Linked DNA regions of Homo sapiens: region 1 is linked to region 2. The links come from fine-mapping of genetic effects on gene expression. A gene starts in region 2. The other region holds a variant in brackets. All regions are shown on one strand. Distances are between the middles of the regions. Region 1 overlaps MAP3K9 (mitogen-activated protein kinase kinase kinase 9). Region 2 holds the start of MAP3K9 (mitogen-activated protein kinase kinase kinase 9).

Evidence for each region.
Region 1: its variant is fine-mapped to the expression of MAP3K9 in whole blood (INTERVAL, PIP above 0.99).

Annotation. Positions count from the first base shown.
Region 1 is chr14:70,785,115-70,788,018 of GRCh38, forward strand. All of the region lies in intron 2 of MAP3K9 (mitogen-activated protein kinase kinase kinase 9), which reads right to left. Among named protein-coding and RNA genes, the nearest start is that of MAP3K9-DT, 22 kb to the right of the region's middle. The variant T/C (reference allele first, on the strand shown) is at 1,670.
Region 2 is chr14:70,807,808-70,810,711 of GRCh38, forward strand. MAP3K9 (mitogen-activated protein kinase kinase kinase 9) reads right to left here and starts at 1,706. Exons shown (of 12, transcript NM_001284230.2): 1 at 959-1,706. The coding sequence starts at 1,364. It overlaps MAP3K9-DT (MAP3K9 divergent transcript), which reads left to right and starts at 977. Exons shown (of 2, transcript NR_184164.1): 1 at 977-1,480. RefSeq lists an enhancer at 268-327 and a silencer at 1,268-1,907.

The DNA.
Region 1 (2,904 bases), 23 kb before region 2:
ATCATTCTCTAGCTATGTGTTCTTGGGCAGGGCATTGTTAAACCTCCCTGAGCCTCAGCTTCCTCTGTTATAAAATGGGGATACTACCACCTCTTCCTGGAGTACCTCAGGTAGATACTGTTTCAAATAAAATTCTAAAGGACCAAATACAAAGCATGATTACAGGAGTCCCTCCTTATCTTCAGGGGACACATTCCAGGATCCCCAGTGGATGCCCCAATCCATGGATAGAACCCTGTATATACTGTTTTTTCCTATACATTCATACCTATGATAAAGTTTAATTTATAAATTAGGCACAGTAAGAGATTAACACTAACAATAAAATAGAACAACTATACTATAAGAAAAGTTTTATTAATGTGGTTTCTCTCTCTCTCTGAAAAGATCTTGTTGTACTGTATTCGCCCTTCTTGTGACGTTATGAGATGAAAAAATGGGTACGTGATGAGATGAAGTGCGCGGTAGATGACATAGGCGAGGTGACACAGTGACACAGTGTTTGGTACTCCCAACCTTCTGATGTGTAGTCAGAGGATCGTCTGCTTTGGATGACCCGGGATCATTGAGTTGTGACAATGTCAATGGTTGGATGTCAGGACAGACCATGTGGATGACTAATGGGCAGGTAGTACACCCAGTGTGGACATGCTGGACAGGATGTGATTCACATCCCACACAAGAAGGGGTGGGAAGGCGTGAGACTTCATTGCGCTACTCAGAATGGTGTGCAATTTAAAACTTATGAATCGTTATTTCTAGAATGTTCCATGTAATATTTCTGGACCACAGTTGACTATGAGTAACTAAAAACAGGGAGAGTGAAATGGCAGATAAGAGGGGACTACCATACTCTTTCTACTACCTCTAGGACTATTTGGGGGATGAAGGAAATGAGGGCCATGTATTACTGTCACCATGAATAATAAGCCAAGGAGAGTATCAGATAATATCAGGTTACACTAATAATCTTAAGTCATCTGAAGCTTATGTGGGAAAATTTTACGTCCTTAGTTGATTTTCCATTGCCATCCATGGGATGTGATGTGGCATCTCCCCTTGTCACTAGCTGCTGTGCATTTGGGCAAAGCAAGCTATTTTATTATTAATTTAATCCAAATACTTAGTAAGGGTAGGTCTCCTAAGGCAGGGGAGAGGGGAAAACAACTCTCTATCACACAACTGTGCCAATAACAGGGAGATTATTAACAATCCACTCCAGGATTCCCATCTATCTCTCAGCGGGGATTCCTATCTCTAAGCACAGGGAGCCAGGAGTCTACTGCTTAAGAAATAAAAAATGTTTTTATTATTCTTTTCTTCCTAAAAATTGTACCACCTAGAAGAATACTGAACACTGTTATCCTTCTACATAACATACCAAAGACCGAGTTCATGTTAGTAACCAGGAAAAACACTGACTTCACCCCAAACTTTGACCTTGGGACCTTACAAGGAAATTGTCCCCCTGGTTCCTCGAATGGGGTACAGATCCTGTTTCCACTGTTGTCTGAAATACTTTGGTCCTAGCTGGAAAGCCTGGCAGAGTAACAGTGTTCCATTGTCGGGCTAAAAGAAGGAACACTATCATGAGCATCAGGATGACCTTAGGCAAGTCACTCAGCTTCTCTAGTTCACAACTGTAAGGTTCCAGTAAGCTCTAATCATA[T/C]CTATAAGCAAAAAAGAAAGTCAAGAATGACCAGAATCCAAAATCTATCGCTATTTTCCCTACCCACAGTCCTTTTCTCCTTCCTCTTATTTATTGTTTTTATTTTTAGTTTTTTGGTTTTTCTTGGTACTCACTGATTAAGGCATCCTCCTTCCTCTTGGACCCTGAAGGTTAACAGAATGCAGAAACAAAAACAAATTTTAAGTGTCCAGATGGCATGTACACCGTGAATAAAACAGCAGGAGGAGATGAGGTATATAGATAAGAATAGGAAAGCCAAATATAAAGATGAAAACAGTTGTATCTGCACACTGGAATCTAGCATAACTATTTTTTTTTCCTTTTTCAATGATACTTTTTCCTGTTATATTGCCTCATAAGCCACATCAGCTTGCAGTCACAAGGATTTGCAGAGAAAGATCTTAACTATAAGATCAGTCACTGGCTGGGCGCAGTGGCTCACACCTGTAATCCTAGCACTTTGGGAGGCCAAGACGGGCGGATCACAAGGTCAGGAGTTTGAGACCAGCCTGGCCAACATAGTGAAACCCCGTCTCTACTAAAAATACAAAAAACTAGCTGGGTGTGGTGGCGGGCACCTGTAATCCTAGCTACTCGGGAGGCTGAGGCAGGAGAATCACTTGAACCTCAGAGGCAGAGGTTGCAGCAAGCCGAGATGGCACCACTGCACACCAGCTCGGGCAACAGTACAAGACTCTGTCTCAAAAAAAAAAAAAAAAAGATCGGTCATTGCCAGCATCCTGATGCCCACCTGCTGCAATGGGCCCCACTCCCAAACCTGCTCCAAGGGATGGATGGACAGTCAGTACCTTCACAGCTGGGCAATTCCAAAGACACACATTGGGCTTCTGACTTTACAAGCTACTCCAAGGAACACCTTCCTCTAGGGTCCCAAGCCCCTGAGAAGTTTATGAAATAGATATATAAAAGCAAAGGCTTGAAGAGAACAAACAAAGCTCATTCAGTAAAAGTGTTTTGAGTCCATCCAGAAAGGAACTAGGGACAAAAAAAAACACACAAACAAAACAAGATTTTTTGGTTGGCCACATTGGAATTGCCACCAAACACCTGGGCTGCTACATGCGAAGTCCTATACTAGGGATGATGTGAGGGGAGACAGAGATGGGGGGAGCAAGGGAAGACGAAGGGATGAAAAACAGCAACACCTCTGCTGTCCAGAATTCTATTGGGATTTCTATGTTTTCATAGAAAAA
Region 2 (2,904 bases):
GGCAATTTAACTCCCTTGAAAAAAAAAGAAGATTTCATTATAGGGTATGAAATATGGGGCTCCTGGAAAATTGACGGAAACCAGGACACTGGGAGAAAGGCCCTGGGAGGGACCCCTGAGCATGGTCCCCCTGAGATTTGACCAGTTCCAAAGATAGGCAAGGATCTAGAATGAGAAGAAAGAAGAAAATGTATTTCCCAAACAGCCTCACTGTCAAAGGACTGGGATTCAGCCACTGTACCTTGCAATCCTGATCTCCCATGGGGGAACGACATACTTTTTCCTCTCTAATCATCACTTGTCTCACCCCCACTCTCAACACACACATCCCTCTTAGCACATTAATCAGTGAGACTCCTAAAGGTACAACTTCTGAGATATAAGAAATAGGATCCAAGAAATCAACCCGACATTTTACAGGCAACTGAGCCTTGAGTTCACACATGCTTCCGGGACTTGTGAGCCAGCTCAGCCCTGCGGAGACACCCCCATCTCTTTGAAAGCAAATGCCTTTAGGAGGCGGGGACAGGCGTTAGAAGAGGTGGTGGCAAGGTCCCTGATTTGGGGACTAAGGCTAGGACACTAACCACCATCTTGCCATAAACACTTCCAGATTGGGAATGGGGGGCGGCGGGGGGGTGGGTAAGAGAAGGGACTGGGAAACTGGCAAATTCTCAGACTGGGACTTCAGGATGTGGAAATCGGGAGCCACTGCTGAGGTGGCCAACTGAAGGTGAAGAAGCCCAAGCGTCTGAAGTGCGGGCAGGGCCTGAGGCGTCTCGAGCTTATCCAGCAAGCAAAGCCCGGGCAGCCTAAGCGCGCGCCACCCACACCCAGGTCAATCGTCCTCCCCACCCCCCGCCCTCATCCCAGCCCTCGCGCAGTGCTCCCCCCTTCCCCGACCGCCCCCCAGGCCTCCGTCATTCCCCCTCCCCGCCCGGCCCCGCCTTCGCCTTACACTGAATGGGCGGGTAGCAACTGGGGTCCTCGCCGCCGGGCTGGCAGCGGCTGGAGAAGGCGCTGCGCGGGGTCACGTAGTTGCTGGGGAAGATGCCCACCCGCTGGTTCAGCTGCCCGGTCCACCAGCCCTCGTCGCCGGACACCTGCGAGTCCTTGGACAGCACCTCCACCACGTCGCCCAGCCGCAGGGTCAGCTCGTCCTCGCCCGCCGCCTCGTACTCGAACACGGCCGTCCAGTAGGGCAGCGGCGCGTCGCAGCCCAGCTCCCCGGGGCCCACCGCCGCCGCCGCCTCCTCCTCCTCCTCCTCCTCCTCCTCGGCCCCGGCCCCTGCTCCATCCTCCCCCGGCGGGGCGGCAGCGGCGGCGCTCGCTAGGCAGCCGAGAAGCGCTCTGGAGGGCTCCATGGAGCGGCCGATCCATAGGGTGCGGGGCCGCCGCCGCCCGCAGGAGCCGCCGCCGCCTATTGTTCATGCGCCTCCGCAGAGCTGGGAGGACCCCCCCCCAACGACGGCGGCCGCAGGTAGGGCCCGGGCTGGCAGGGCTGGGAGAGCCGGCTCGCCGGCGCTGTTACCGCGGTACGAGAAGAGCGCCGAGCGCGAGCTCTTCGCGCAGCCTAGGGGCGCAGCGGGCCGAGTCCCCGCCTGCCCGCTCGCCCCCCCGGGGGCGGCCTCGTCACCTCTGCCGCCGGTACCTGCTCGCGCAGCCGGTGCCCGCCGCTGCCAGCCGGCCGCCGCTCTCCTCTCCGCGCCGTGCCGTGCCCCGCCCCCCGCACCGCCAGCTCGCCGGGACCACCTGACGCGGGCCTGGCTCCGCCCCAGCCCTGCGGACCCCAGGGGGCTCCGCCCCACGCCCGCCCCGCCCCGCGCCCGCTGCCTTCCCATTGGCTGCGGCCGCCCAGTCCCCGGTTCCTCCGCCGTGGTTGGGGCAGCCTAGCTGGCCGTCTCGCAGGTCCCTCTCACCCCCTGCGCCGCCGTCGCACCGTGCCCTCCCCCATTGCGGGCTCTGTCATTCTCAAACCCAGGTCGACCCACTCTTCCCGCCCACTGGCCCGCCGCAGCTCCCTCCATTGGCTCGCGGCACCTGTCCGTTTCCTGGGAGAGTTCAGCACCTCCCGGCAGGAAGAGGCTCCGGCCTCATTGGGTGCGTGAGAAGGGAAGGGTGGATCCTAAAAGGTAATACTGAGCCTTCATTCAAACTAAAAGGCTGGAAGGGAGGCAGCTGCCTTTGTTTGCCATGGATGGGTAGGGGCTGCACTGAGCAGCACCGGTGTTCTTCATCCGGCTGCACCCCCAACAGAGCTCTTTCTTCCCCAGATCCCTTTTACAGTTGGATTCTCCCTCTTGGATCTGGCTCTGCCTTAGTCCGACCTAGAGGGATCAGCTTCGCCCACGCCCACTCTCACCCGGAACCTTTCATCTCTTATTGAAGCCTTTTAGGCCCATTGGGATGTTCATTAGAACTCTGAAAACTACAGTTCTCCCCTTTATGAGGACTGCACCACAGCTCGCCCTCTCCTGGGTTCCGGTAAGAAGAGATTCCAATACCACTCTTTTTTCAGAATTCAGAAAGGCAAGAGACCACCTTACTGAGCTTCAAACTGGGGCTGGGAACGCTGCCATGAATTGGGCTTGGTCTGTCTGAAGGGAGCCACCTTTTCGACAATCCTTAGACTTCTTTTGCCTGTTGGAATTACACCTTGGATCGTGGCGAAGTCTATAGAGGTCAGATTAAGAAGAACCAAAGCAGAATAAACGTAGAACCCGATGCTGAGTTCACGAGTGAGGACGACCTCTTCCTATATGCTTTGCTATACCCTGCGTTTTGAACATTAAGGACGAGATAGGAGGCCCATAATGTTTCTTCTTGCTTTAATCCTGTCGTGGCAACGTTGACTTCCAGTAAGAAAGGTTCTCTGATCTTTTTTTCTCTTTTCTTTTCTTTTCT